Homo sapiens: one gene and its partners. The protein of the gene in region 1 purifies or fractionates together with the protein of each later gene. This does not show direct contact. Each region holds a gene or a part of one and is shown in the gene's direction. Other genes may lie near its edges.

Region 1 (4,345 bases):
GGTGCTGCTGCCTGGCACTGCCCTCTGGTGTTAAAAATGGGCAGGATCTGGACCACTTGCAGCTTCTTGGGGGCTCCTGCTAGTCTTTCGGGCTGCTGGGTGCTACCTGGGAGTTCAGTCTGTTCTTGGCTCTGGCCAGACTCTAGTGACTACTGAGGTGACCTCCAGGGAGAGGGATATTCAGCCTTCCTGGCCGCACACAACAAGGTGCCATGGGGTGGGCATGCCTAGGTGCTTATAGACTCCTCTGCTGCTCACAGATGCATTGGGTGACCCTGGAAGCCCTGTTCTGGGCCTTGGGTTCCCCTTCTGATGGCCAGGGTCCCTTCCAACCCAGTCGACAAACTGAGTATTTCTGCAGCAGACACCTCTACCTGTGTGTGACCCTGCAGGCGGGGTTGTGGGGAGGAAGAGAATGGACACATTGGTGAAGGGATGGGGCAGTGGGCCCAGAAACACACACCTGCCCACGTCTGGCCCCTCCTTTCCCACTCAGCTGTGAGCTCCCAAAGGACCAGGCAGTAGACAGTGAGTGGTGGGCACGTAGGAGTCCATCCTATTCACTGCGACCCTCCTTTCCTGGCCCCCGTGCCTGGCTGGGCTCTGCCTGTCTGGGATGATGCCATTCCTCCCTTGCCCTCGGCAGGTAGAGGGCCAGTCTCCTGGAGCAGCCTCCTGGCCCTCTGGGAGCTTCTGTCTTACCCATTCCTCTGTCCTCCCGTGTTGGGTCTGCAGGGGTAGAAGATAAGGAGTCTTGGCATGGGAAGCCCCTCCCCAAAAACATGGCTGAGCAGATCATCCAGGAGATCTACAGCCAGATCCAGAGCAAAAAGAAGATCCTGGCAACCCCTCCACAGGAGGACGCACCCTCAGTGGACATTGCCAACATCCGCATGCCCAGCCTGCCCAGCTACAAAGTTGGGGACAAGGTACAAAGTGGGGCCTGTTTCTCTGAACCCATAGTTCTCAGGTTTCCCAAGTCTGTGGCCCAGATACACCCTCTGGAGGGCTGGGAAAGGGAGGAGAGCGATTCATTTAGGGCGAGGAGTGATCCCTGAGGTGTTGTTCCTGTCACTTCCCTCAGAATGACAGACATCTCTGGAGTTGACCTGCAGAGGCTCAGACCGGGCAAGGGAATTGCCCACTTAGCAAGCTTAGCAAGCTACTGACAGAACTGAGATCAAAGCCAAGGACTCACTCCCAAGTTCTTGCATCGCTGGTCCACGAGGGACCCTTGGCCTGAGCTCAGGACCCCCACCTGACCTGGGAAAGGCTAGGCAGAGCTGTCCCACTCCAGGTTTCTGTCCCAAGGGAACCCATCCATGCAGCCTGTGCCTGGCCTTGACTCCCAAGCCTTCTGTGTTCCCATGCAAAGTGGAATAGGTTCATGGACCTGGTGCAGCAGGCGGGAAGTTGGGGCTGGTGGGTGTCTTCTGTAGCTTATACCTTTCACAGCCAGAAGGGGCCGGGGCTCCAGGGGCTCCCAAGACATTGACCGTAGTCGTTGGCAACCTTTCAGCAGTTAAAAGCCTCTGCAGGACCTTGTGCTCCAGGGCTTCCATTTTTGGCCCCGTTTTAATCCTTCTCTGAAAGCAGGGCTCCAGGCTGCAGGTGTGCACTCACCCTCAGAGGGGTCCAGAGCCTTCCCACTCTCTTCCTCACAGATAGCCACCCGCAAGGCCTACGGGCAGGCACTGGCCAAGCTGGGCCATGCCAGTGACCGCATCATCGCCCTGGATGGGGACACCAAAAATTCCACCTTCTCGGAGATCTTCAAAAAGGAGCACCCGGACCGCTTCATCGAGTGCTACATTGCTGAGCAGAACATGGTAGGTGCTGGGGCCGGCAGGGACAGGTCCACCCAAGGCTGAGGGCTGTGGTCTGAGGGGTGCGGGGCAGCCATGTTGGCAGAGCCAGGTGCCTGCTGTAGGCCAGCCCAGGGAGACTATAAGAAAAGCCAGGACCCAGCGTTAACCCCTGACCTTGAACAGCCACAGTTTGGGAGGTTCTGCCCAGGTGCAAATGTCCTGGACAGGTGTGCACATGGGGGAGCCGAATGGGACTGCAGGTGCTCTCAGGAGGAGCTGCGTACAGGCCAGGCCTGGTGGTGAATGGGGTCTCTTCCAGGTGGAGGACAGGCCTGGCCAGTAGGTGGGGCCGTGATGGGTTTAGCAGCCCGAGTCTGTAGAGCACCTGTAATGCACACGGCTCTGGGCCCTGCCACCCTGAGGGATGCAGAGATGAGGGAACTCTGGGCCCCTGACATGTACCCATTTGGGGAAGCAGACCCTTGTCAGGAACTGAGGTTGTGAAGTAAGGAACAATGTTTTGTCCATGTTTTCAAAATATCCCCTCCTGGTGGTCCAGGAGCCCAGCCTGGCTTGCAGGCCCCTAGGGACAGGGAGCTTCCTCTCTCTGGAGGGCACTCAGATCTCCAGAGTTCTTCCAACTGGACCTGAAATTCTCTCTGTGGTTTCCAGAGACTGCTCTGCAGGGCGTGGGGCTGGGGAGGTCCCAGGTACTAGGGAAAGAGGCCTTGTGTTGGCTGGCAGATTTTGGAGCCTTGAAGGGCAGCTGGTTTGGAACTGATGACTGTACTCAGTGCTGCTTCTGGATGAGTGATTTGGGGCCTGGAGCCTCAGCAGGCATGAGGCTGCTGCCCTCGGACCCCAGGGAGGGGTTGGGAGGACCGGTCTCTGCAGAAGAAGGTGGTGGGGGACATATTCAGAAGCCCAGAAAGGATGGACAATCTATATACAAATTGTGGCTTTCTCCACAAAAGGGGTCCTAGGCTCCCCGACCACCCTCTGCCTGCCCCTTTGGGCTGACCCTGTCCCACCTGCCCCCAGGTGAGCATCGCGGTGGGCTGTGCCACCCGCAACAGGACGGTGCCCTTCTGCAGCACTTTTGCAGCCTTCTTCACGCGGGCCTTTGACCAGATTCGCATGGCCGCCATCTCCGAGAGCAACATCAACCTCTGCGGCTCCCACTGCGGCGTTTCCATCGGTGAGTTTAGCCAGGGTGTTTACACCTGGAGCTCCCTTGACTTTTGCACCAGGAGGTATGGGAGGGGGATGGGCCAGGATTCCAGCCCATGGATGGGGGGGTAGGGGTCTTATTTCTGCATATCCTTTCCCCCACACCCCAGGGGAAGACGGGCCCTCCCAGATGGCCCTAGAAGATCTGGCTATGTTTCGGTCAGTCCCCACATCAACTGTCTTTTACCCAAGTGATGGCGTTGCTACAGAGAAGGCAGTGGAACTAGCCGCCAATACAAAGGTAGGTTGCATGGCTGTTCTTTCTCCTGCTGGCAGCCATCACTTCCCAAGGGAAACAGAAGAGGAGGCCAGAGCTGGTCACTTGCTGCCCCAGGGGGTGTTTCCTGACCTTGCCCCTGGTGTTCGTGTAGCTTGTGGAAGTTAGACAAGAAAAAACGAAATACACACCCCACTTACTGCCACGTGGCAGACATTGTCAACTGATTGCCAGTCTGTCTCTGCTGAGAATCCTGGCAGCCCTGGCCGGTCCAGCGGTTGACACCTCTCCACCCTCCTGAGTTGGGTTCTCCAAGACAGGCAAGGATGAGCTGAGCCCTGTGGTCCAGGCCCGGAGCTGCATGCCACAGACCCAGTGCGCGTGGTTCCTGCCCCTCTGCCTGGTGCAGTCTGTGGGAGTAGCCCACCTGCAGCCAGTCTACCTGGTGGAAAGTTGCCTTCGGTCTGAGGCTGCAAGGTGGTGGGCAGTTCTCAGAGTGTTCAAGTGGGGTGCGGGCGGCAGAGGGCAAGCAAGGCCCTTTTCCCTGCTGGAGTAGCCAGGATGCAGTAACTAACGCTCCCATGGGAAGGGATGGCCTCTCTAGAAAGACCTCGTCTCTGAGGTTGGGTGTGCCACATCCTGTATCCTCAGTTTATCTGTTTCGGTCTCAGGGTATCTGCTTCATCCGGACCAGCCGCCCAGAAAATGCCATCATCTATAACAACAATGAGGACTTCCAGGTCGGACAAGCCAAGGTCAGTGCCTCGCATGCCCCAGGAGCCCACAGAGCTGCCTGGACCCTCCCTGCTGTGACTCCCAGCAGTCAGGGCACACCCTGCCCCAGGGCCCTGAGCCTTACTCACCCTCTGTGTCACCCCCAGGTGGTCCTGAAGAGCAAGGATGACCAGGTGACCGTTATCGGGGCTGGGGTGACCCTGCACGAGGCCTTGGCCGCTGCCGAACTGCTGAAGAAAGGTGAGGAGAAGGGGCCTCCAAAGTCATCAACTGAGCGGCCACTGCATGCTAGGTCTTGGGGTTCTTTCTTTCGTTCTTTCTGTTCTTTCTTGAAGAGCTCACAGCTAGAGAGAAA
Region 2 (4,345 bases), on another chromosome or scaffold:
AGATACCCTTCCAATGACTGAAATCCCATATTTAGGATACCCCATTCCTGCTATGGAAATACTTAGGAGACTAAATTGTGAATCAAAGTTTGTGACTGTGAGGCCGAGTGCAGTGGCTCACACCTGTAATCCCAGCACTTCGGGAGGCTGAGGCAGGTGGATCACTTGAGGTCAGGAGTTCGAGACCAGCGAAACTCCATCTCTACTCAAAAAATTAGCTGGGCATGGTGGTGGTGCCTATAATCCCAGCCACTCAGGAGGCTGAGGCAGGAGAATCGCTTGAACCCGGGAGGTGGAAGTTGCAGTGAGCCAAGATTACACCACTGCCCTCCAGGCTGGATGACAGAACCAGACTCCGTCTGAAAAAAAAAAAAAAAAAAAAGTTTGTGACTGTGAATTCCACGCTAAATGAGTTGGAGTGAAATGTTGAGCAAACAATATGTCCAGGCTAGAGATACGTAAAATGCTTAGAACAGTACTTATCACATGGAAATTGTTCAGTCACTGTTAGGCCATGCATCAATGGCAGCATGATAAAATAGTCAAAGTGTGGCCAGGCATGGTGGCTCACACCTGTAATCCCAGCACTTTGGGAGGCCGAGGTGGGAGGATCACTGGAGGTCAGGGGTTCGAGACCAGTCTGGCCACCATGGTGAAACCCCATCGCTACAAAAGTACAAAAATTAGCTAGGCATGATGGTGGGTGTCTGTAATCCCAGCTACTCGAGAGGCTGAGACAGAAGAAACACTTGAACCCAGGAGGCGGAGGTTGCAGTGAGCTGAGATCATGCCATTGCACTTCAGCCTGGGCGAGAAAGTGAGACTCCATCTCAAAAAAAAAGAAAAGTGTGAATGTTGGCCTTTCCATACAAACAGTGCCAGGCTGAGGTTGCCTGACCCTTGTCAGGTCTTGGGAACAGGTGTCCCTCTGCTATAGAGGTAAATATGATATGTCAGTGATTTTAGCTTATCACTATTAAATATTTCACCTGTACGATTGACAGCTGTTCTTTTGCTTCCGTGTTCACCATAAATCTGCTGATGATTTGGCTGCCATGTCCCTAACGGAGAGAATGTGTTAGCCTGAGGACTTGACGTTCCCATACCCTTGGCAATTATATTTCTAGTAAATTAATAAACTGGCATCCTTGGTTATAATTTGATTTTCTCTGTGAGTGTGAGAATGTGCTTACCCTAGGATATGAAAATATGGTACCATTGGTGACTACATTTCTGATTAAAAATGATGAAACCGGCCACTGCGGTGGCTCACGCCTGTAATCCCAGCACTTTGGGAGGCTGAGATGGGTGGATCACCTGAGGTCAGGAGTTCAAGACCAGCCTGGCCAACATGGTGAAACCCTGTCTCTACTAAAAATACAAAAATATTAGCCGGGCGTGGCAGCGGGCGCCTGTAATCCCAGCTACTCGGGAGGCTGAGGCAGGAGAATTGCTTGAACAGAGGCGGAGGTTGCAGTGAGCTGAGATCGTGCCACTGCACTCCAGCCTGGGCAATCAGAGCAAAACTCCATCTCAAAAAAAAAAAAGAAAAGATGAAACTAGCCAGGCGCAGTGGCTTATGCCTGTAATCCTAGCACTTTGGGAGGCCAAGGTGGATGGATCACCTGAGGTCAGGAGTTCGAGACCAGCCTGGCCAAAATGGCAAAACCCCATCTCTACTAAAAATACAAAAATTATCCCGGCATGGTGGCACATGCCTGTAATCCCAGCTACTCAGGAGGCTGAGGCAGGAGAATTGCCTGAACCCAGGAGGCGGAGGTTACAGTGAGCTGAGATCATGCCACTGCACACTCCACCCTGGGCAACCCTCCGTCTCAAAAAACAAAAACAACAACAACAAAAAAACATGATGAAATTGGCATTAAGTGTTAATAATGAATCGTATGAGCTTGGTTAAAGGGAGCGCATCCTTGAGAACTGGTACTGGAGTTGGTGAACACTATTGGATTTCAGCCCTGAGGCTGAGGACTAGAACACCAGACTGTGCCTTGTTTACCAAAGTGCTGTCACCTTGCCACGTCTTGCGAGACAGACTGTCATTCTCTCAAAATATCCCTGCCCCACAACACTGGCCGTGGAGTGTTGTAGCCCACTGTATATTAGGAGAATCTTTTGGAGGGATAGTTTGAGAAAATGTGTTAAAATTATAAAATCTTTTTTTTTTAATTATAAAAAAAATAAAGGCAGGGTGTCACTATGTTGCTCAGGCTGGTCTTGAACTCCTGAGCTCAAGTGATCCTCCTGCCTCAGCCTCCTAAAATGCTAGGATTACAGGCACGAGCCACCATCCCTGGCCAAATTCATAAAATCTTTTTCTATCATTTGACCCAGTAATTCTCCCTAGGGGGAAAAAAAAAACTCTTCTGAAGAAATAATTCAAATTATGGGAAAAGCTGTATGCATGAAGATACGCATTTTAGCATTTTTTTAATTTAAAATCTTAATTTGCCAAATCACTTTTCACCTGAGACTCAGCATTACTTGTAATCACTGAAAATTACAAGCAACCCATAATCCAGCAATAGAGAAGTAATTATGTAAATCATTGTAGGTCAGTTTAATTAAATAACACAGCTACTAAAAAGGATAAAGACCTGTAATCCCAGCACTTTGGGAGGCCGAGGCAGGTGGATCACCTGAGATCAGGAGTTCGAGACCAGCCTGACCAACATGGCGAAACTCACATCTCTACTAGAAATACAAAATTAGCTGGGCGTGGTGGTGCATGCCTGTAGTCCCAGCTACTCAAGAGGCTGAGGCCAGAGAATCACTTGAACACGGGAGGTGGAGTTGCAGTGAGCTGAGGTTGCAGTGAGCCGAGATCGCACATCGCACTCCAGCCTGGGCAACAAGAGCGAAGTGAAATTCCGTCTCGGAAAAAAAAAAAGGGAAAAAGATTGGGTCAGGTGCAGTAGCTCATGGGTGTAATTCCAGCATTTTGGGAGGCCGAGGCAGGTGGATCAATTGAGGTCAGGAGTTTGAGACCAGCCTGGCCAACATGACAAAACCCCATCTCTACTAAAGATACAAAAATTAGCTGGATGTGGTGGCGGGCACCTGTAGTCCCAGCTACTCTAGAGGCTGAGGCAGCAGCATCGCTTGAACCCAGGAGGCAGAGGTTGTAGTGAGCCGAGATCTTGCCACTGTGCCCCAGCGTGGGTGACAGTGACTCCATCTCAAAAAAAAAAAAAAGATTAAAAATGTAACAGTGTGGGAAAATGTTGATAATTAATATAGAGTGAAAAAATTCAGCACATAAAATACTTAGGTTTATATTTAAACTAAGATTATGACTATAATTTGTATATTCTAATTTGTGTATTTGTAATCTTAATATACAAATTATAAGGCACCACGCCTGGCTTTTCTTTTTCCTCCTCAGACATGAGGTCTCGCCGTTGCCCAGGCTGGTCTTGAACTCCTGGGCTCAGGTGATCCTCCCACCTTGACCTCCCAGAGTGCTGGGATTACAGGCATGAGCCACCACCCCTGGCCTAGAAAAATATTAAAATACCATTAAGGAATATTCAAAACTGGTTATTATATCAGGGTAGTAGAATAAGGGATTTTTTTTTTAATCTATTTTCCATTGCAGCTGGTTTTGATGGTTTTGAATCTGTTCTCTGGCATTCTGTCCTGCAGTTGCCACCAGCTGACCACTCTGCAATATAACTTCTTAAACTTGCAGCCAGGAGGAGCCCTAGGGCAGGGAAAGCTGCAGACTAGCTGGCTTCCTGGCTGCTATCCAGGCAAGGATTTTGTTTTCTCTATTACAGTCGATTATCCTAGACTTTAGGGAGCAATAGGTCTCTGGACTGTAGGTTTCAGCCTCCGTTCTGGGCTTATCTTTGGATTCTTGTTGATGAGTCAAAAAAAAAAAAAAAAAAAAGGAGTGACCATCAGATGTTTGCTAACTCTTCAAGTATGAGCTCAACCTTGTTATCTGCCTGGAGTCATTTCCTTTGAAAATGTATGGTAGACTTTGCCAAAGTAAGTAGTAATGTCCCATTCCTTCTCAGGAAAATGTGTACACATAGATCAAAACTATGCATTGTAAAACTCATATCTGTTTGAAAACATAGAGGTAGGGACAGAAAGTAAACATATGAAGGATTTGACAGGACACATTACCAGCCTGGTGGTCCTTTTTGGAAAATGTTTGCTTTCTCGTAATTGCCTTCAAAATAGGGACAGTGTCCTGAATGTTGGTTACAGTTGTTGAAGATTTCTTTTTGAGATTATGCTTGGATGATGGGGCCTTAAGAAGAGAACCCACCCAGTCCTATTTTGTGCCTTCGTTTGGACATGTTCTCCCTTTTCTTCC
Region 3 (4,345 bases), on another chromosome or scaffold:
TTTGGCCCACAGGACAATAGTGGAGGGAAGGTCAGCAGACAAACAAGTGAACAAAGGTCTCTGGTTTTCCTAGGCAGAGGACCCTGCGGCCTTCTGCAGTGTTTGTGTCCCTGGGTACTTGAGATTAGGGAGTGGTGATGACTCTTAACAAGCATGCTGCCTTTCAAGCATCTGTTTAACAAAGCACATCTTGCACCGCCCTTAATCCATTTAACCTTGAGTGGACACAGCACATGTTTCAGAGAGCACGGGGTTGGGGGTAAGGTCACAGATCAACAGGATCCCAAGGCAGAAGAATTTTTCTTAGTACAAAACAAAATGAAAAGTCTCCCATGTCTACTTCTTTCCACACAGACACGGCAACCATCCGATTTCTCAATCCCTTCCCCACCTTTCCCCCCTTTCTACTCCACAAAACCGCCACGGTCATCATGGCCCGTTCTCCATGAGCTGCTGGGCACACCTCCCAGACGGGGTGGTGGCCGGGCAGAGGGGCTCCTCACTTCCCAGTAGGGGCAGCCGGGCAGAGGCGCCCCTCACCTCCCGGACGGGGCGGCTGGCCGGGCGGGGGGCTGACCCCCCCACCTCCCTCCCTCCCGGACGGGGCGGCTGGCCGGGCGGGGGGCTGACCCCCCCACCTCCCGGACGGGGCGGCTGGCCGGGCGGGGGGCTGACCCCCCACCTCCCTCCCAGACGGGGTGGCTGGCCGGCCGGGGGCTGACCCCCACCTCCCTCCCGGACGGGGCGGCTGGCCTGGTGGGGGCTGACCCCCACCTCCCTCCCGGATGGCGTGGTTGCCGGGCGGAGACGCTCCTCACTTCCCAGACAGGGTGGCTGCCAGGCGGAGGGGCTCCTCACTTCTCAGATGGGGTGGCTGCCGGGCGGAGGGGCTCCTCACTTAGACGGGGCGGTTGCCGGGCAGAGGGTCTCCTCACTTCTCAGATGGGGCAGCCGGGCAGAGACGCTCCTCACCTCCCAGATGGGGTCGCGGCCGGGCAGAGGCGCTCCCCACATCCCAGATGATGGGCGGCCGGGCAGAGACGCTCCTCACCTCCTAGACGGGATGGCGGCTGGGAAGAGGCGCCCCTCACTTCCTAGATGGGATGGCGGCCAGGCAGAGACGCTCCTCACTTTCCAGACTGGGCAGCCAGGCAGAGGGGCTCCCCACATCCCAGACGATGGGTGGCCAGGCAGAGACGCTCCTCACTTCCCAGACGGGGTGGCAGCCGGGCAGAGGCTGCAATCTCGGCACTTTGGGAGGCCAAGGCAGGCGGCTGGGAGGTGGAGGTTGTAGCGAGCAGAGATCACGCCACTGCACTCCAGCCTGGGCACTATTGAGCACTGAGTGAACAAGACTCCGTCCGCAATCCCAGCACCCCGGGAGGCCGAGGCTGGCGGATCACTCGCGGTTAGGAGCTGGAGACCAGCCAGGCCAACACAGCGAAACCCCGTCTCCACCAAAAAAATACGAAAACCAGTCAGGCGTGGCGGCGCGTGCCTGCAATCGCAGGCACTCAGCAGGCTGAGGCAGGAGAATCAGGCAGGGAGGTTGCAGTGAGCCGAGATGGCAGCAGTACAGTCCAGCTTCAGCTAGGCATCAGAGGGAGACCGTGGGGAGAGGGGGAGGAGGAGGGGGAGAGGGAGAGCTGTGGATTTTTTATAGATTCCCTTTGTCAGATTGAGAAAGTTGCCATCTGTTCCTAGTTTGTTCAGTGTTTTTGTCATGAAAGGGTGTTGTATTTTGTCAAATACTTTTTCTGTTGACTTTTTGTGTTGAAATCCACATTGGATTTCATTGTTTCCTAAGAAATAAGTAAAACTCATTTATTCCAAGTGATATTTAATAATATTAAACTCAATTAGAAAAGCAGCTTTGTGGTATTTGTCAAATGTTATTCGAAGCATATTCTGTTCTCTCTTAACCATAAAGGCCTAACCCCAAATATTTATCTGTTAATAATTTACACGAGATGATCGTGTAAATTTTTTTTATTCTGTTGATATGTGATATTTGACAAACCTTGGCAAAAGAATATCCATTGGCCAAGAATTTTTTTAATGACATTAATTTGTAAAATAAGATAATTTCATCTCAGTCAACAGATGAAACATTTAGTTAGTAGATTAATTGATGTTATACTGAGTTCCTCCCAGTTCCATCTGCATTCAAAACCCTTAACTTATAAATGTGCCGAATTTGTCAAGTTTTGAAAAACTTGAAACCTACACAAAAGTTAAAAGAATAGTACAATGAACATCCTAAAACCCCGTACCTTGATAGACCAATGTTTTACATTTTGTCAAACTTGCTTTTGCTCTTGCTAACAGCCTCCAAAACAGGCTGTTAATGTTTTTGGTTGTTGTTGGTTTTTTTTTTTTAAGTCATTCTTTTTATTCAAAGTGTGGTTCTTGGACTAGCAACATCAGCTTCACCAGGGAAATGGTTAGAAATGCAGAATCTCCGGCAGACCTAGACCTGTTGATTCAGAACTTACATTTTATTATAACAAGACGCCCCCATATGCATTTTAAAGTTTTGGGAGTGGTGGTCTACTCCTACCTCTTACTCTCCTGACCAATCATTCATCTGTCTTCTCCCTAAGTATGCAGTCCTCAGCCTGTTTTACATTAGAATTACTTGGGATGCTTTTTAAAAGTGACTACTGATGCCCAGGCCCCACCTCCAGCCTTTCTGGTTTAATTGATTTGCTTAGGAACTTAAGCATGAGTATGTTAATAAAGCTTCCTAGGTTATTCCAGCCTGCAACCAAGGTTGAGAACCACAGCCTCCGATACTTCCTCTGTTAAGGAGCATACTACTTTAGGATAGCGTATTCCATTTTTAAATAACTCTAATTGTTATAAATTTCTGTCTTATATTAAGGACTTAATGGGATTTCTCTAAGTAGCAATTATCTTTAATATATTTGAAAACCAATTGACTGTGGTTACACAACATTATGAATGTATTTAAATAATACCATTGAACTATACACTTAAAAATGGTTACAATGATACATTTTGTTATGTGTATTTTGCCCCAATAAAAAAATAGAAAAAAACCCAATTGACTGTAGTTTTTATTCAAATTGTAAACACATATTAGATATAATATGCTGTACTTAGATGCATTTTGTCCTACCTTAGAGCCATATAGTTTATCATTTTTGATAGATTGCCAACATTTCCATGTATTTCGTGCTTGTTCTTAATTAGTAGATTTATAGAGAAAATTATTTTTCTTTTCCTTCTCTCTTCTAGAGTTCTTCAGATGCTATATATTTGGCAAGGCATGTTGGTTTGCGTGTGGGAATCCCAAAGGAGACCCCAGCTCTCACGATTAATAGGCTCTGTGGTTCTGGTTTTCAGTCCATTGTGAATGGATGTCAGGTATGGACAACATTTTTTTAAATTCTCTGAAAATATGTTAATAGTTACTAGAAGAAATGTCCCACTGCAATATAACACTTTAGCTTTAGGGAGGATTGCTTGAGCCCTGGAGGTCAAGTAAACCATGATCATACCACTGCACTCCAGCCATGGGCAACAGAGTGAGACCTTGGCTCCAAAAAAAAGAAAAAAAAAAAAAAGCTAATAATGAACCTGAAAGTGGAATAAGCCTGTCATAAAAGGACAAATACTGTATGTTTCTACTTCTTTGAGATACCTAGCGTAGTCAAATTCATAGAGACAGAAAGTAGAATGGTGTTCCCAGGGACTGGTGAGGGAAAGTTAGTGTTTAATGGATATGGAGTTTCAGTTTTGCAAGATGAAAAGCGTTCTGGAGATGGGTGATGGTAATGGTTGCATCACACTATGAATACACTTAAACTACTGAGCTGTATACTTAAAAATGGTTAAAATGGTAAGTATTATATATATATATATACTTCAATATTTTTAAAAGCTAGTATGTTCATCATTCTTTCGAGTGCTTCCTACATGCTAGGCACCCTGCTAGATTTACATTCAATATCTCATTTAATCTTACAACCATCCTATGAAGCAAGAACTATTATTATTATTCCCATTTTACAGGCAAGGAAACTGATTAAAGCCATTAAGGTTACTCAGTCATAGAATTTGAACCCAGGTCTGTGAGTGTTACCTGTGAGGCACTGAATAAAGACCGTGAGGCAAGCAGGAAATCTCAAGAATTTAGGAGAGGATAAGGAAATGTATTTTATTTCAAAGGAAGTGAATGATGCTGTTAGTAGAAGTACAAACTAGTTTGACCTTTTTAAAGGACAGTTGGTTAAATACATTTGTTTCTTTGAGCACAGAGAAGAAAGTGAAATCCAATTTCATTTGTAAAAGTCTTCATTTTATTACAAACAAAATAAGA
Region 4 (4,345 bases), on another chromosome or scaffold:
TAGTTAATGACTAGGTCAGGACAGCTTACAAGCCTGGAGCTGCCCATCACTAAAATACCAAGCAGCAGTATGCCACACCAGGATCGGGTGCCCTGGGGAAGGCATTCCCATTATGTTGTTGGTGTTTGAAAATGCTATAATGACCAAACAAAATGGCTCGACTGACTCAGACTTATGGTCCATAGGTTTGCAGTCTACGTTGTTCACCAGCAGAGTACAAGATACCTTTGGTTTTGCTGGAGGCATAAAAATTCTTTGTTCCTGTCCTCAGGCGAAAATGGGCAGTGTTTACAGGCATGAATGCTGGTGGAAAGAGCAGAGTAAGGGCAGATTGCACAAGAACCGTGGAGGCCCTGGTTCCCATCACCTCCACCTCAGCACAGACTTCAGAGAGGAGAGGAGGCACTGGATGCATGACAGCAGCACTTGAGATAGGTGCTCCAGGTGGAAGGCACTGCACATGCAAAGGCTGAGTAGGTAGTTCTCTGTGTGAAAATGGTGATGTTTGGGGTGGATAGCTAGTGAAAAAGACTGGATTGAGCCCAAGTGAGGAGGATCTGTGTTGTGAGGTATGGAGCTTTGACTAAAAACATACATTCTAAAACTAGGTGGGCTTCAGATTTCCATTCTGAGGCTCTGCCACCTACTGGCTATTTAATCTTGGACAAGTTGGTTAGCCTCTCTTTGCCTGTATTATCTTGTGTAAAATGAGAGTAATTATAAGATTAAATGTGAGCACTTAAGAGTATATTAGTCTGTTTCATACTGCTGTAAAGATACTACCCATGACTGGGTAATTTATAATGGAAAGAGGTTTAATTCACTCACAGTTCTGCATGGCTGGGGAGGCCTTGGGAAACTTACAGTCATGGTGGAAGGGGAATCAGGCACGTTTTACATGGCGGCAGGAGAGAGAGGAGGAGGAAGGAGGAACTCCTAAACAGATCTTGTGAGAACTCACTCACCGTCACCAGAACAACATGGGGGAAGCTGCCCCCATGGTCCAGTCACCTCCCTTCCTTGACACATGGGGATCACAGGTCCCTCCCTTGACATGTGTTAATTACAATTTGAGATGAGATTTGGGTGGTAACACAGAGCCAGATCTTATCATACAGCCAGTGTGTAGTTCAGTAAATGCTAGCTGTAATTATCATTATTATTAGCTCCAGTTGTACAAGAGTTCCAAGAGTCTGTGTTCACACCAAGCATTGTCTGGGGACTAAACACAACCTGCGTATATGTGGCTTTTTGATGTTCATAGCTCCTAATTTCCCATTACGTTTTAGAGATTAGTAAGATATAAATTTATTTTAAAGTTTATTGAATTTGCAGGAACTATTTTTTATTGGGATAAAATACACATAATCTAAATTTTACCCTTTTAGCCATTTTTAAATGTATAATTCAGTGGCATTTGGTACATTAACAGGGTCCTGCAACCATCACCACTGTTTAGCTGCAAAACGTTTTCATCACCCCAAGAGGACACCCTGTACTCATGAACAGTCGTTCCCTGATTCTCCTTCCCCCTAACCTCTGGCAACTGCTAACCTGTTTTCTGTCTTTTGGGATTTGCCTATTCTGGATATTTCATATAAATAGAATCACGCAACGCACAGCCTCCTGTGGCTGGCTTCTTTCTTATACTTCGCATTGATTTACAAGATTCATCTTCGTAGTGTGTGTCAGTACTTCATTCCTTTCTATGGCTGAATAATATTCCAGTGTATGGATAGACCACATTTTGTTCATGCATTCATCTGTTTTTTGTTTTGTTTTGTTTTTGAGACAGAGTCTCGCTCTGTCGCCCAGGCTGGAGTGCAGTGGCGCGATCTCGGCTCACTGCAAGCTCCGCCTCCGGGGTTCACACCATTCTCCTGCCTCAGCCTCCCGAGTAGCTGGGACTACAGGTGCCCACCACCATGCCCAGCTAATTTTTTGTATTTTTAGTAGAGACAGGGTTTCGCCATGTTAGCCAGGATGGTCTCGATCTCCTGACCTTGTGATCCTCCTGCTTCAGCCTCCCAAAGTGCTGGGATTACAGGCATGAGCCACCGCGCCCAGCTTCATACGTTCATCTGTTGATGGACATTTGGGTTTTTTCTACCTCTTGGCTGTTGTGACTAGTGCTGCTGTAGACCTTTGTGTCACAGGAGCTTTTCGTCTAATGTGCTGTCTTGGGGGATAATTAAAGAACTGTTACGTAAGGATTATCAGACCTTTTGATGTAAAAAAAAAAAATAATTCCAGTATGCATATTTCTCTGTTACAAAAAGAAAGAGAAGAACTTTTTGGTGGCAAAGTTGCCCTTGACAGTTTTTAAGCCTGGAGCAGAGCATTGAGCTTCCAGGGTTGGGATGGAGGGTGTGGGGGTGGGCGGTGTTGAAGGCAGGTATGGGTGGTGGCAGGAGAGCTAGGACCAGACCCCCATTTCAGGGAGGAGGTGACTGTGAAATCTAGTGGTGCAGGGACCCTGGGTCTGCTCTTTTCTTCTGCACATCCTTGTCTGTCCACTTTCACAGGCATTGACAGCTGCCCCTACACTCTAACCCTTTAATTTCCGCCCCATTGTTTGGGCCTTGACTAGTTAGTGTTTTAGGATTAGCTTCTGTCCCAAACACCTGGACCACCTGAAGGTCACTACTTCTTACCAGATCCAATTTGGTTTTCTGTTAAGTTAATTAGTTCATTTCATTCTGCCCTTTTAGGTAATTTTGTCACTCGAATATTCTAGTCTACAGTGTAGAGAAAAGGCACAACACCTTTGCTATTCTAAAACGGTAATGTCATAGCAGTCAATAGTACTGAATGCCTGTGCAGTGTGTACCAGTGCTGTGCATGCAGCACTGTGGTAGCTGTCGAGGATTTGTATAGCACCTACAAGAGACTTACAGTCTTAGCAAGAGAAGCCCAGTACAATGAAGTAGTTAACAAGTGGCAGAGGCTTACAGCGTGGTCCAAAGTGCTGTAGGATTTCAGAGAAGAGAACAGATGATCTGTAAGAATGCAAAGCTGAAAAGGCTGAAGGAAAGACTCCTGACATGAGGATGTGTAGAGTTTTGATGAGTGGAACAGTCATTACACTTTTTCCTCTTACACTCGTTGCTCTGACACATTATACGTTTATTTCTTCATTTTTCTCTCTCCCTTCCAAGTAGAAATTAAACCTGAGAGGGAAGAGTCTTTGCAACCTTAGCCCATGTCTCCCCAGATCCTATAACACTGTCTGAAATGTAGTGGGTACTCAGTGAATTCCTGTTAATAAATGAATCATAGGCAAGCAGAATAGAAATGAAGGTACAGGTGTACCATCTGACATTGAATTGGAGTAGTTTTTCGAGCTGAAGGGAACCTTAGCTACCTAGGCCTCCTTGCATTTAGACTGTGCTTCACATAATCCTAAGAGTTTCTTGCCCCCTCCTCCCTCAGGTTATCAGGATGGAGCAACTAGAATAAGGGGCTGAGTTCCTTCCTGTTCCCTCTCCCAGCGCAGTTGTGCTTGCTTGTCGTTAGTCTTGACTGTAAGATTTACTTTGAACACACAGTTCTGCAGCTACAGAAATTTTGGTTTCAGGGCTAACCTCCTGAGGCCCAGGTAAGCTAGTATTTCTCATGATCACTTAGCTAATGCCTAAAGTGGAAATCCCAATTCTCAGATCACTGACTGATTCTTCCCTAGCTCAGGCCTTGCCAGGGCAGTCACTCTTCGAGCTGCCACTTGAGCATTCTCTTCCTCTCCTCACACTGCTGTGCCACGGACCATACCCTATGCTTTCCTGTTCCAACACACTACTTGTTCTCACCTCCTTTCTGGGACTCCTTTCTCTGTCCAAAGTTGACATGTCCTTCAGGATCTAGGTAGGTCGGAGCTTGCCTCCTCCAGGGAGATTTCTTTCAAGTTGAAATCAGTCTTCCTCTCTGCTGAATTTCAGAAGCTTTTGCTCATTTCATTGGTGTGTTTTGTTCTCTTTGTTTAGCAACCTGTTCCCTTTTTACAGAGTAGGCCCTTCATAAATATCGGTCAGATGAACCTGATGAGCTTGAGAATAATGATGAAACTAAACACTATGAGCCAAGAGTTTGTACTGGAATACAAAATCAATTTGATGTCCTTTTGATAACACCTGGGTTGGCAAGGGATGAGGAAGCAGGCACTCCCATACATTGTCTGTGGGAATGTAAATTAGTGGAACTGTTGCTAGTCTAGCAGAATTACAAGTGTACATAGCCTGTTGACCCAGCAAAATTCTGCTTCTAGGAATTAACTCTACCCACTGTAAAGTGACAGGTGTATAAACCTAGGATCAGAAGTCTAAGTGTTTCTTTATCAATCGGGAACTGA
Region 5 (5,114 bases), on another chromosome or scaffold:
CTGCTGGTGAGTATTTGAAAACTCATAGAGGAGTGGGTGGGGTTATATATGTCAATTGACACTGAATAGTTAAGCTATTCTAATTACACTTGACAGTATTTTAACATAATGGAGCTGTTTTTTAGGGATTATATACCAGTCTTTACCTGTGTGTCTGAGTAATAAGTTGTTTCATTGTGTATATTGATTGTAGATGTTTTTGGCTACAAGTAACAGAAAACCTAATAGTGGCTTAAGCATTAAGAGTATTTATTATATATAACAAAAAGTCTGTAGATAAGATTGCTTTCTAATTGGAGTATTTTTTGACCTACCTCTTAAGGTAGTTGTGAGATAGTGACTGTAAAGTGCTTCATAGCTTGGATTATTTATAGAAAGCATTCATTAAGTGCTATTATTTTTTTTAAATATAGTCATTTACATTTCAAGGGGCTGAGTCTACATTCAGATCTTCAAACTGTTAAATTTATACAGGTGATATATTGGTGTCCTGACCAGGAGACAGGGTAAAAGTAGTCTCATACTTTATAAAAAGAAGTCTAAAACTTTTTTAAAATTAGTTTTATATTTTTAAAATGTAATCTCTTAGGCTTATAATCTAAAGTTTTAAAATTAGGCATGCTTTAATGTAACCTCATTCTAGAGCAGTAGTTATTTTTAAATTATATTCTAAAGTATTTCTTTATTGTAACAAAATTATGTTGTTTTCACAGGCCTTGCAGTTGAAATTCAGCCATAAAGAAAATGAAGTGATTTAAAATTGCAAATTTTTGTTACTTCAGTAGTTGTTAATATATAATTTTATTAAAAAGGTTTATTGAAAATCGTGAGGCACTTTATTGTATGGATGCCTTTAAACTTAGTAGACAAAGGTTTCTTTTTTTCTTAATCGAGAAACTTTCAATATTTTACAGTAGTTTGAATTACTGCTAACTCTAACATACTGCTTGTTTTATTATCTTTAAAAATTGAATGTGCATATCCTTGATATGAAGAAAATCTCATCAGGCAATTGACCCCAAATATGTCAGGGTATCTAAATTTTTGTCACTTGTAGTAATTTACATTTTTTTTCCTGTCCTTAGATATATTATTGTGTATTGAAGGAAGTATTCATGATTAAATTATTCACAGTTACTTGATGAAAGTATTCGTCAGAGTTTTCATGGCTGGTGTTATTTTAAATTTTAAGCGTATGTTGGATTGTGAAGATAGGAGAATAGGAACAAGACTTAAAAAGCTTGGAATTGGGGTCTCATGATGCTTGAGCTTTTGTACCCATTTTACTGTTTACTAAATCATTTATTATATTTAATAATTGTCAGAATATTAAGATAACTTGATTTTTAGATATCTAACTTTATGTTTTGTTTGTTTGTATAGGAAATGTTTTTCTAAAACATGGTTCAGAACTGCGGATTATTCCTAGAGATCGTGTTGGAAGTTGTTAATATCTGCTACTTGGAACATACGATTGCCTTTCAGAATAAATATTGGTATTTTTTGTTGTTGTAAAATTGAAATCAGGCATTTAACATACTATGAAAACACCAGGAGTCAATGATTAATGAAAGGTGACTCATCTGTCCCTTTTTGTTGTCCATACTCTTCCTATGAAGAGGGAATGCGTATGAATTAAGGCTACTACTGTCACAGAAGATCATAGTCTTTGATGCTACCTCACAACACAAACAGGTAGTTCGTTGGGGGCAAATGAATTAGCCAACTGTTAACTGGAAGCTTTTGATAATTTTTTTTTTTAGAACAATTTGGAACATTAAAATTTACTGAATCGTATATATTCATCTGAGATAAAAATATAAAAAGAATTATGGACCCTGGATGGCAATTTGCTTGATAGCATCTGATTTGCAGACTCATAATTTGATTTTTAATTAAATATATAGGTTGTGATGAAGTGAATAGACATATCAGTGAACAGTTAACTATATTAAATTTTTATCATTTACTTTTTTTAAGATTCAGACCTCAGTTATATAAATTTCAGTTTAATATCAACCAAAAAATTAAAATTTTAATCTAACCCTTATGTGTATAAATTGGTGTCCCATACCAGCTTTTAATGGTGGACCTATAGAATCCAGTACTTTTAATGGTGGGAATTTACAGTAGAAGCATCCTTTGCTGAGTTATACATTCCTTTATCAATCTCTTTTGATACAACATTTAAAACAAGTAGCTTCAAGAAACCACTGGTGTTTTGAGGATAGTATTTCTAAATAGCATTCAGGAACAGAGTATTATTGCACAGATCTGAAGATCAAAAAAAAGCTCAAGGAAATACAGATCGGAAGTGCTGATGAGTTATATTTATTGAAAACCCAACTTTTAAGGAAGTGCTAAGATCAGTCACCCATGTGAATAAGAAGCCAGGAAAGGAAAGATGGGGAAGCCCAGATCACCAGGCTTCTATTAAGGAGGAAAGCAACAGAGGAAACAGTGAAGGGGAACAGAAGGGGGTAGCAAAGTGTTACAGAAAAGCGGACTGGATAGACAAAACTGCAGAAGGTGTATGTTGGGGAGAACTGAAAGGGAAAACAAAATACTTGACATAGTCTTAAGTAGAAGAAGGCAGTTAGAGAAAACAAAGTATCTACTGGCCTTGTCAACATACAGACTTCAAAATACCCCTTATGAGAATCCAAAGAATGATGTGTGTAAGGGAAGATTTTATTTGCCCTTCCGGAAGAAATCAGTATCTATGCAAATCTTGAAAGACGAAATCAAAGCCCATTAATGATTCAGAATCAGTGCTTGACCTCCTGTATTCTGAATGGTGAACTCTGGAAGCAGGGATTGTGTCTGGCTCTTTTTAGAGCTGGAAATGTAGTGGCTTTCATTAAATACTTGCTGTAAAGTCTTTCTAAGACCAATTATTATCTTAGCATGTTTCAGTATCTTCTCTATCATAGGCCCTAAGTTCATTGGGGGAAAAAAAATAAGAAGATTCAACAGAATCAGCATTTGAAGTGTACCATTGGTAGTTGTTTATGAAATTACCAGATATTCATAAATGTGACAAATGAACAGCAGGATTATGAATTATCAAAGGAAAAAGTATTTGCTGAGGTGAAAAAATCTGATGTTTGAGGAAGTTTTTATTTTTATTTATTTGTTTTGTTTTTTTTTTTTTGAGGCAGACTCTCTGTCGCCAGGCTTCTCCTGCCTCAGCCTCACGAGTAGCTGGGACTACAGGCATGCACCACCACGCCCAGCTAATTTTTGTATTTTTAGCAGAGACAGGGAGGAAGTTTTTATTTTTATAAACAAAATCTGATGTTCAGAGGCCCCGTTTCTTACAATAAATGTTGAGTCTTAGTTAAGCAGGAATTTATGAACACCCATTTCCTGACTTTTTGCTTTAATTTAGATTTTTCTCCATCCTGTTTCTAGCACAAAAATTTGCCTGCTGTGTTACAAAAATAAATTTATGTTGTCCTGTGCCATAAAGTGATATATTTAATATTTTTATTCTTTGGTTTTGAACATTGTAAGTTCCTAAAAACATTTTATTAAACAAGTAGACATTTTGTTATTAAAAAAATGTGATCTGTAATTTCTTTGTGCAGAATGATTTGAAGTATTGTATTCAGTTTACATGCGTTATTGGTTTATAATTAATATCTAATGAAAATACATGTTGTTATATTGTAAACCATATTGTCTGTTCTTATTATTAGAGCTCTTAATCAGCACACCTTTTGAGTCAGTATATAATACATGTAGTAAAGAAAAAAAGGGCAAAGATGATTAATGACCATAAGTCAGAGAAATTAGTTTATAGTCATCTGCCACAGACATAGTAGTGATGTTTCGTCCAACAACAGACCGCATATATGACCGTGGTCCCATATTACTATATTTTTACTGTGCTTTATCTATGTTTGGATACACAAGTACTTACCATCATTTTACAGTTGTTTACAGTATTAGGTACAGTAACATGCTCTACAGGTTTGTAGCCTAGGAGCAATAGGCCATACCAAATAGCCTAAGTTTGTAGTAGGTGACATCAACTAGGTTTGTACAAGTACATTCTGATGTTCACATAGTGACAAAATTGCCTAAGGAAGCATTTCTCAGAATTTGTTCCTGTGATTCAGTGATACATAACAGTACTTGCAAATGCCTGTCCATTTTACAGACGGAAAAAAAAAAAAAAAAAGTTGAGAAGAAAATGGGGTTATTGTAACTGGCTAGGTTGGTAGGTTCCAAACCTGGGTGATAACAGAGTCGCCTAGGAAATTAAAAATACAGATTTTTGGAAACCACTCCTTGAATTCTGATTTATTACATCTGTAATAATATATAAAGATCCTCTGTAAACAGGAGTTCTGGTGATTTCTGCCATGCAGGTGGTTTGAGAATTAATGAGAAGGCCACCTTTTCACTTTGTAGAAGAACAGAATGAGGTCTAAGGGGTCAAAGTAAGTAGAATATGTTCTGGAATCTTGGACAGTGCACTTTCCAATGCTTGGTAAGTAGCCTGAGGTGAAGGTGCTAGCTAACAGTCTCACTCACTGCACAACCTTTGAAGTTTTTCTCCGGGAGGTGGGGGGCAGCCCCCGCCCGGCCAGCCGCCCCGTCTGGGAGGTGGGGGGCAGCCCCCGCCCGGCCGCTGCCCCGTCTGGGAGGTGGGGGGCGCCTCTGCCCGGCCGCCCAGTCTGGGAAGTGAGGAGCCCCTCTGCCCGGCCGCCACCCCGTCTGGGAGGTGTACCCAACAGCTCATTGAGAACGGGCCATGATGACGATGGCGGTATTGTCGAATAGAAAAGGGGGAAATGTGGGGAAAAGAAAGAGAGATCAGATTGTTACTATGTGTAGAAAGAAGTAGACATAGGAGACTCCATTTTGTTCTGTACTAAGAAAAATTCTTCTGCCTTGGGATGCTGTTAATCTATAACCTTACCCCCAACCCCCTGCTCTCTGAAACATGTGCTGTGTCCACTAAGGGTTAAATGGATTAAGGGCGGTGCAAGATGTGCTTTGTTAAACAGATGCTTGGAAGCAGCATACTCGTTAAGAGTCATCACCACTCCCTAATCTCAAGTACCCAGGGACACAAACACTGCGAAAGGCGGCAGAGCCCTCTG
Region 6 (4,345 bases), on another chromosome or scaffold:
CATTGGAATGGAGGCTTAGACCATCGTTGTGTTTGAAGAATTTTCTAGCTCTACCAAGTAGAAGATGGAATGAGAAGGCACTGAGGAAATTACTCACCTTTCTTATTAGGAAATACATCCTGGAATTATGAGCAGCCAGTTAATTCTAAGGGTAATTGCATACTGCTGGGGTGTGGCTCAAAAATATTATGCTATTTATATATTATGTTTATTAAAAGGGAGCAAGTTGGCATGAACAGTATAAAATAGACATTTTAAGAATATCTGGTTATTTTCGTTAAAAACTGTTTGTTCTTGTTTCCTGCTATGTTACAGCCCTTCACAGTATCACATTTGAAACTTTGTGCTGGAATCATGATAACTGCATCTCACAATCCAAAGCAGGATAATGGTTATAAGGTATTTTCCTTTTTCTACTCCACACGTACATCCTTCTGTAGGAATCCTGTATCTGTAATTTTTGGGACCATAGGTAATAGGTGCCTTATTTCCATTAACTGTAAACCTTCTGAATGTGTTCCTGGGTCCTCTAGGTCTATTGGGATAATGGAGCTCAGATCATTTCTCCTCACGATAAAGGGATTTCTCAAGCTATTGAAGAAAATCTAGAACCGTGGCCTCAAGCTTGGGACGATTCTTTAATTGATAGCAGTCCACTTCTCCACAATCCGAGTGCTTCCATCAATAATGACTACTTTGAAGACCTTAAAAAGTACTGTTTCCACAGGTAAATGAATTGTGTCTTCACTGACCTTAAGTGAGTTAATGTGATTCAGCCAAATTCTATTAGTGTTTGTGAAGTTTTTCTCTTTAATTTGCTCATGTACTACAGCTGCATCTGATTTTATTTTATTTTATTTACTTATTTTGAGACAGGGTCTCACTGTGTCACCCAGGCTGGAGTGCAGTGGCACGATTTGGCTCACTACAACCTCTGCCTTCTGGGTTCAAGCGATTCTTGTGCCTCAGCCTCCCAAGTAGCTGGTATCACAGGCGTGAGCCACTGCACCCAGCTAATTTTTTTGTATTTTTAGTAGAGACAAGGTGTTGGCATGTTGGCCAGGCTAGTCTTGAACTCCTGGCCTCAAGTGATCCACCCACCTTGGCCTCCCAAAGTGCTGAGATTACAGGTATGAGCCACCACGCCCACCCAGCTGCATCTGATTTTAGAGGCTGTAGATCAAGCCTTGGCAAACTTTTCTTAAAGGGACAGATAGTAAATATTTTTGGCTTTGAGGTCCACACAGACTCTTTCTCAGCTACTCAACTCTGCTGTTTTAGTACAAAAGCCATCATAGATGAAATGTCGGCGAAGGAGTGCAGACAGAAGTGGGTGGCTTGCCCATAGGCCATAGTTTGCTGACCTGTTATAGATTCCATACATGTATGTGATTCATACATATTCATACATGTAAGTGTGTGTGTGTGTGTGTATATATATATATATATATGTATGTTTTTAAAACTTGCTCAAAAGTCTTGAATAGCAAACACTGGTATTTTTCTATCTTTCCAAAAATTTTCTGTGCATATGCAAGCGTATATATATATATATATATATATATATATGTGTGTGTGTGTGTTTGTATATGTATAATATACTTCAAAACCATAAATAGGAATATTTGTGTGTGTGTGTGTGTGTGTGTGTGTGTGGTTTGTTCTGTGCACTTTTCCCCCCAATTAATTTGTCATGGACACCTTCCTGTGTTAGTCCCTATTAGTCCTGACTTTCTGTCTTAAAGGCTGCTGCACCGGTGTATTTAACTCAGTGACACAGACTCAGTCCTTACCATCAGGTAGGAAGAGGTGTAGCAGAGTGACAGTAGTGTCTGCTTGAGTATGCTGTAGGTCCCACCCCTCCTGATTGTCCCCCTAGCAAGAAACCACTGATTCAAAGAAACTGAACTTGTAGGTTTGTCTTTGATACTGTATTTGTTGGATCAGCTGATGGTGCCCACTCCAGTGCAGAGTATGAAAGCCCAGTCCTGCCTGAAGGGAGCAGCCGTGCCAGCTGAGTGTTGCCCACATGAAAATATAGGTCCCAGTTGCCAGATCATCTGAGTTCTCCTCTTCCCAAAATAACTGGAAACCTGGATTTTGTGTGTGAAATCTCCTAATTCCTACGTGTTGGACCATTTTTTCCAATGGTGTGTAGTCCAGACAAAATACGTCTGTGAACTTTCCCTCTGCCCCTCTGATTTAACTTCACGAAGAATGAGGCATTTCTGCTTTTCCACTCCAGGTAGCTTGGGAGTTAACTCCCCTTGTGCACAGTTGCTTGAGTATGTGTGTGGGTGTGTGCGCGCGTGCATGCACGTGCATGTGTGTGCGCATGTGTATCCGTAAGGTAACTTTCTGGCATCAAAATTGTATGTGCATTCACAAAGTTGATAGTGCTTAGCAAATTGACCTCCAAAAATATACCAGTTGGTGCTCCCACCAACAGTAGATGTTGACAGCATATGATACCTACATTTCCTCCTGCTCTGTGATCCAATTTCTCATTTTTCCTGATTTGCTAGTTGAAAGTAATAGCTCACTTTTATTTGTATTCTTTAATTAACCTATATTTTCTATGTGTTTGTTCACCTTTTATATTTATAAACATCTTTGTTTATAATATATATACATATATACATATTATATATACATATATGCATATACTATATATATAAAATATATTTTTTAGATGTTTTCTGTTGTCTTTGGAATTTTCTATTGAAACTGTTTGCTGAACTGTTTAAAAATCTGTATAATATTTATTAGTCTTATTTTATAGCTTCTGGGTTTTATGTCATGCTTAGGAAGACATGCTCTATAGCAAAATTATTAAAGTAATAGCAAAATATTTCCCTTGTTCTTTCTCTAGAACTATCATGTTTGTGTTTTATAATATTTAAATCTTTTGTTTCATTAGTGATTTTTAATTTTATATGGGGCATGAAGTAGGAAAGCAGATTAGATTTTTTTCTAAAAGGTTTGCAGTTGTACCAACATCAATGGAAGAATCTTTCTTTTTTTTCTTTTTTGACTAATTGGAAAGGTCACCTTTATGCAACAATTTCTAACATTAATCAAGTGCTTATTATATATCAGATAACTGCTGGAGGCCCTTCACATGTCATTTTTTTTCTTTTTTTTTTGAGACAGGTTCTCACATTGTCACCCAGGCTGCAGTGCAGTGGCATGATCTTGGCTCACTGCGGCCTTGACCTCCCAGATTCAGGGAATGCTCCTGCCTCAGCCCTCTGAGTAGCTGGTACTGCAGGTGTGCACCACCATGCTCTGCTAATTTTTTGTATTTTTTTGTAGAGATAGGGTTTCACCATGTTGCCCAGGCTGGTCTCGTATTCCTGAGCTCAAGCAATCCACCCGCCTCGGCCTCCCAAAGTGCTAGGATTAGAGGAGTGAGCCACTGTGCCCGGTCAACATGTAATTTCATTTAATCCTCAGAGTAATGCCAGTAAATTCTGGTATATTATCATGCATGTTATAGATGAAAAAACTACAAGGAAGAGTGGTTAATAGCCAGCAGTCACACAGCTTATAGATGGCAAAGCTCCAGGATTTAAATTCAGAGTCTGACTCCAGAGCGTGTTAACCACTCAGCATTATTACTTCTGTGTTCATCTCCCATTTCAAATTAGATCAACTTCTGAACTCTCTATTCTGTTCCTTTAATCTGCCTTTTTATGTCTAGTACCAAGCTGTTTTAATTACTGTAGGTTTATTATGTATTTTAAAATCCAAGAGAGTTGTTTTTCCAGATTTTTCTTCCCTAATCTTACATATTTATTTTCCAAGATGCATTTTATTTTCAGGGTATGCTTGTTTTAAACCACAATTCTCTTAGATAAGACCTTGTTCATTTATTCATTCCCAAAAGAAATGGATAATAACCTAAGATTCCAGCCATCAGAGCACTGGAAGTTTTTAAAGCCTTTTATTTTTCTGTAACTTCTCCTGTTAATTTTGGTATCTGTTGTTAGTCTGTATAAAGTCCCTAAGTCATGGCATGGTATCAAACAGGATTGTTACTTGGCAAACAAAAAGTTTTATTTATTTATTATTATTATTTTTTTTTTTTTCCTGAGACGGAGTTTCGCTCTTGTTGCCCAGGTTGGAATGCAGTGGCACAATCTCGGCTCACTGCAACCTCCACCTCCCAGGTTCAAGCGATTCTCTTGCCTCAGCCTCCCAAGTATCTGGGATTACAGGCATGCACCACCATGCCCAGCTAATTTTGTATTTTTAGTAGAGATGGGGTTTCTCTGTGTTGGTCAGGCTGGTTTTGAACTCCTGACCTCACACGATCCACCTGCCTCGGCCTCCCAAAGTAAAA
Region 7 (4,345 bases), on another chromosome or scaffold:
TCCCAGCACTTTGGAAGGCCGAGGCAGGAGGATTGCTTGAGGCCAGTAGTTCGAGAACAGCCTGGCCAATATAGTAAGACACCATCTCTATAAAACACACACAAAAAATATAAAAATTTAAGGTTACTTGGCTTCTCTTGCAAAATGAAGAACTATGTAAGAGAAGGATTTTAAAAGTACCAGTAGTTACTAAGGTTATATGTAGTTTTACAAGCCCCCATTCAAATGGCTCAGATAAGTCAATTTTTGAGAATTTTCATTTGTTTTTGCTTCCAAAAAAACAAACAGGAAAGACTTCAGAAGTACGTTTTCAGTCAGTTTAGCTGCTCCAGTGTCTTGGATCCTAGATTCAGAAACAAATTTTAAGTGAGAGTACTGCTCTTGCTTTTGACTAGATTATAAAAGGTCTTTATTTTTGTCTTTACTTTCTTTTTAATTTTTTTAATTTTTAATTTTTGTAGATTTTATATATATATATATATGGGTTACATGAGATATTTTGATAAAAGCATGCAATACATAATCACATCAGGTTAAATGGGGTATCCATCAAGAAGGTTTTTATTTAATTTTTTTTTTTTTTTGAGACAGGGCCTCGTTCTGTCGCCCAGGCTGGAGTGCAGTGGCACGATCTTGGCTCACTGCAATCTCTGCCTCCTGGGCTCAAGCGATCCTCCCATCTCAGCCTCCCAGGGAGCTGAGACCACAGGCGTGGGCCACCACACCTGGCTACTTTTTCATATTTTTTTTGTAGAGACAGCGTTTTGCCCTTTTGCCCAAGCTGGCCTTGAGCTCCTGGACCCCGCCCACCTTGGCCTCCCAAAGTGCTGGGAATACAGGCATGAGTCACTGTGCTCCGCCTATTTTAAATTTTAAATGAAGGGTTTGTGTTGGCAAGGTGCTTTCTAATGATCTAGACCAGTGGTATCTAATAGAAATACAATGTGAGCCAAATTGTGTTAATTAAATTAAAGGGACATTTAACTTTTTTGGTACTAAGTCTTCAAGATCTGGCATGTGTTTTTATACTACAGCACATCTCAATTTGATCTAGTTATATATCTGGTACTCAACAGACACACATGACTAAATGACTGTCGTAATGGACAGTGCAGGTCTAGCCCAGAACATTTTCAGGTATTGGTCCTAGAATAGAGCCTGTCATTTTGCCAAGCACATCCCTGCTGTACCATAGTGGCAGGGTCTTTGTATAAGGCAGATCTGATCCCGCTTGATCTTCATTATTGTGCAACACACAGAAACGATTGGAAATATGCCTATCAAGTTATTTTAAGAGTAAAGAAACATGTTTGGAAATCTTTTCATTTCCGGAAATCCATGGAGTTGATTAACAAAATGAAGCATTAGAAATAATAAAACTTGCTGATAAGGGATAGTCCTGAAAACTAATTGGTTCCATTGCACAAACTTTGTACCTGATACAGATTTTTAAATTTGATATAAAGGAGTTCTTATATCTGCTAAATATTAATAACATAAGATATTTTAAAAGTATAACTTTTTTAATCATTCCATTCTTTGCTCAGATGTCATCATATCAGACTTTCCCTGGCCATCCTGTCTAAAAATCTCCTCTACCATTGTTCCCCGGTCATTTTTGTCCTCAAAAGTAGGGGAACAAAAATGGGGAACAATGGTTTGTTTTTTTTCTGTATCTCACCATCTGATATATTACATGTACGCACACACACATACATGTTTATTGTCTCTCTCCATTAGAATTTCACTTCCATGAGAACAGAGAGTTTTTAAAAAAGTTTTCTGTTTCATTCTCAGAACCTGGAATGATGCCTGGCACAAAAGAAGCATTCAATAAATATTTGATGAATAAATAAATGCTTTTCTTGATCAATTTTAATTTCTTATAAACTGGCAAAATGGCAAGTTAGTAGCAGGTTTATAACAAAACTTTTAAATGTTTAAAGGGAGTTAATTTTTTGATTAATTTATAATGTAATGAATGTGATACATTATGGAAACCAAGCTCTAGACAGTGCAATTATTTTTTCCTACATAAAAAAGTGACTTAGGATCTATTAATAGGTGCAGAAAAGTTACTACATGTTTTTTATTTTTCCCCAAATTTCCTTTGATGGTTTCAAGATTTGAGAATTTTATGTATTTTCCATAGTCATATAAGAAGTGTTTTCAGGGGTCCCCAAGATCACCCACATATCTCATGATGATTTGCTAGGACTCAGAGTTGTTCTCATGGCTAAAGTTTATTACAGTGAAAGAATGCATGACAAGATTAGGAAGAGGAAAAGACATGGGGGAGTCTAGAGAAATCCATGGGCTTCCAGTTTCCTGTGAGGGGACACATCAAGTGTTTTCCTTTCTTCAGCAGTGAAAAATGCAGTAATTGTCTGCAGTGTTTCTGCCTGGAGAAGCATGCTAGAGACTCAGATCCCAAGATTTTTGTTGGGAACTGGTAACATAGGGATCCTCTGCCTAGCAACTACCAAAATTACAAACTTCTGCTGGGTGTGGTGGCTCACGCCTGTATTCCCAGCAGTTTGGGAGGCTGAGGCCTGCAGATAACTTGAGCCCAGGAGTTCAAGACCAGCCTGGACAACATGGTAAAACCCCTACAAAAAATACAAAAATTAGCTGGGCATGGTGGTGCATTCCTGTAGTTCCAGCTACTTGGGAGGCTGAGGTAGGAAGATGACCTAAGCCCCTGGGGAGGTTGAAGCTGCAGTGAGCTGAGATTGTGCCTCTCCACTCCAGCCTGTTGGGTGACAGAGTGAGACCCTGTCTCAACAAAAAAAGGAAAAGAAAAAAAAAATTCTAGACTTCTAGAGTGGGGCAGGTGTTCAGCATAAATCACCATGTTTGTATAGACGGTCTAGGAAGAGTGAATAGCCCTTGTTGGTCTTGTCAGTTAACTTTGAAAGCCAAGTTCCCAGATACCAGCCAGGATCTAATCTTGCAGACAGGTCCTTCTGTAGATAGTAGCCTCAGGCCTGCTGTGTTAACTCTTGTCTGTGAAAGGGGCAGATACATAATGAGATTGTACAATCCTAGGTGGAGGGTTGGCATTGCATTTAACTTCTTAAGGACCACCATTGAATTACTGATAGTAGATTTGAAGGAACTTGGAGAAGAAAAGGAGCTTTATGCTTTATGAGGTTATCAATAAGCTAGTTCCCACTAATTTCTAGGAGTAACTTCATTCTGTTTGTTGTCTCTCTTTGGTTGCAGGATTAAGGCTGCTGTCCCAAGCATCAAATTCTGCTTGGACAATGGAGCCAAGTCGGTAGTCCTTATGAGCCACCTAGGCCGGCCTGATGGTGTGCCCATGCCTGACAAGTACTCCTTAGAGCCAGTTGCTGTAGAACTCAAATCTCTGCTGGGCAAGTAAGTGCCAGGCTCTGGTGCTGGTAGACTTTGTGGCGGGGGAAGTTGTCAAGCACGTTGTTACTGGTTTTTAACTTTCATACTGCTCAAGTGTCTTCATCTCTTCCTCTTCTCAGGGATGTTCTGTTCTTGAAGGACTGTGTAGGCCCAGAAGTGGAGAAAGCCTGTGCCAACCCAGCTGCTGGGTCTGTCATCCTGCTGGAGAACCTCCGCTTTCATGTGGAGGAAGAAGGGAAGGGAAAAGATGCTTCTGGGAACAAGGTAGGACCTGTGATTTTGACATTATTGGGGGTGAGGGCCTGAGTCTGTAAGAGACTGTGGTTGAAGAATAGAGAAAGCTCATTTATTTTAACTTAGACACCTTTTATTGAAGCATACAATGCCGACACAGCTTGATGGGTTATCTCAAAGTAAACACACTTGTGTAACCACCACCCAGGTCAAGGAATAGAATATTACCAGCATCCCAGAAGCCCTCCTTCATGTTCAGGTGGTGTTTAAATATGTTTGAAAAATATGTGAACACCTTTGAGGTGAAAGAGTATTCAGTGAATATGATGGTCATGATGATGTCACCTTGGATTTAAGGCATTTTCTTAAGATGTGTAAAGTATGTTCCTTTAAATCTCTCTTTAAGATAGAGGTACAGGTATCGACTTATTTCATAAAGAAACTAAGTCTCAAAAAAAAAAAAACTTAAGTTTCTGAAAGGCAGTCATACGATTAAAGTTAGAGGCAGTGGTGCTGTTGGTCTTTAGAGCTCAGCCCATTCAATCAGCAAACTTTTTCTATAAATGGCCAGATAGTTAATATTTTAGGCTTTCTGTGTTGTGCAGTCACTTCCATCTGCATATAGTCTCTGTTGGAACTACTCACCTCTGCCGATGTTGTGCAAAAGCAGCCATAGATAACTCACCAAACAGATTACTGTGAACTGACAACCAGAATTCAAATATTCAATGAT

Evidence for each region.
Region 2: the proteins of TKT (region 1) and POLA2 purify together in Homo sapiens (affinity purification with mass spectrometry; 2 studies listed by BioGRID and IntAct, with this or other methods). This does not show direct contact.
Region 3: the proteins of TKT (region 1) and ACAA2 fractionate together in Homo sapiens (co-fractionation; one large-scale study listed by BioGRID). This does not show direct contact.
Region 4: the proteins of TKT (region 1) and PITPNB fractionate together in Homo sapiens (co-fractionation; one large-scale study listed by BioGRID). This does not show direct contact.
Region 5: the proteins of TKT (region 1) and UFM1 fractionate together in Homo sapiens (co-fractionation; 2 studies listed by BioGRID). This does not show direct contact.
Region 6: the proteins of TKT (region 1) and PGM2 fractionate together in Homo sapiens (co-fractionation; one large-scale study listed by BioGRID). This does not show direct contact.
Region 7: the proteins of TKT (region 1) and PGK1 purify together in Homo sapiens (affinity purification with mass spectrometry; 2 studies listed by BioGRID, with this or other methods). This does not show direct contact.

What each region holds. Positions count from the first base shown.
Region 1 is NC_000003.12:53,227,941-53,232,285, reverse strand, and holds part of TKT (transketolase), read left to right. Parts: intron 1-735; coding exon 736-929; intron 930-1,664; coding exon 1,665-1,829; intron 1,830-2,849; coding exon 2,850-3,006; intron 3,007-3,148; coding exon 3,149-3,279; intron 3,280-3,926; coding exon 3,927-4,010; intron 4,011-4,136; coding exon 4,137-4,230; intron 4,231-4,345. UniProt on the Homo sapiens protein: Catalyzes the transfer of a two-carbon ketol group from a ketose donor to an aldose acceptor, via a covalent intermediate with the cofactor thiamine pyrophosphate.
Region 2 is NC_000011.10:65,271,477-65,275,821, forward strand, and holds part of POLA2 (DNA polymerase alpha subunit B), read left to right. Parts: intron 1-4,345. UniProt on the Homo sapiens protein: Accessory subunit of the DNA polymerase alpha complex (also known as the alpha DNA polymerase-primase complex) which plays an essential role in the initiation of DNA synthesis.
Region 3 is NC_000018.10:49,796,511-49,800,855, reverse strand, and holds part of ACAA2 (3-ketoacyl-CoA thiolase, mitochondrial), read left to right. Parts: intron 1-3,261; coding exon 3,262-3,390; intron 3,391-4,345. UniProt on the Homo sapiens protein: In the production of energy from fats, this is one of the enzymes that catalyzes the last step of the mitochondrial beta-oxidation pathway, an aerobic process breaking down fatty acids into acetyl-CoA.
Region 4 is NC_000022.11:27,888,257-27,892,601, reverse strand, and holds part of PITPNB (phosphatidylinositol transfer protein beta isoform), read left to right. Parts: intron 1-271; coding exon of another isoform or gene 272-430; exon of another isoform or gene 431-473; intron 474-4,345. UniProt on the Homo sapiens protein: Catalyzes the transfer of phosphatidylinositol and phosphatidylcholine between membranes. Also catalyzes the transfer of sphingomyelin.
Region 5 is NC_000013.11:38,359,328-38,364,441, forward strand, and holds the end of UFM1 (ubiquitin-fold modifier 1), read left to right. Parts: coding exon 1-6; intron 7-713; coding exon of another isoform or gene 714-739; exon of another isoform or gene 740-1,383; coding exon 1,384-1,451; 3' UTR 1,452-4,292; downstream 4,293-5,114. UniProt on the Homo sapiens protein: Ubiquitin-like modifier which can be covalently attached via an isopeptide bond to lysine residues of substrate proteins as a monomer or a lysine-linked polymer.
Region 6 is NC_000004.12:37,839,533-37,843,877, forward strand, and holds part of PGM2 (phosphopentomutase), read left to right. Parts: intron 1-40; exon of another isoform or gene 41-127; coding exon of another isoform or gene 128-151; intron 152-315; coding exon 316-399; intron 400-533; coding exon 534-727; intron 728-4,345. UniProt on the Homo sapiens protein: Catalyzes the conversion of the nucleoside breakdown products ribose-1-phosphate and deoxyribose-1-phosphate to the corresponding 5-phosphopentoses.
Region 7 is NC_000023.11:78,110,519-78,114,863, forward strand, and holds part of PGK1 (phosphoglycerate kinase 1), read left to right. Parts: intron 1-3,225; coding exon 3,226-3,381; intron 3,382-3,497; coding exon 3,498-3,642; intron 3,643-4,345. UniProt on the Homo sapiens protein: Catalyzes one of the two ATP producing reactions in the glycolytic pathway via the reversible conversion of 1,3-diphosphoglycerate to 3-phosphoglycerate.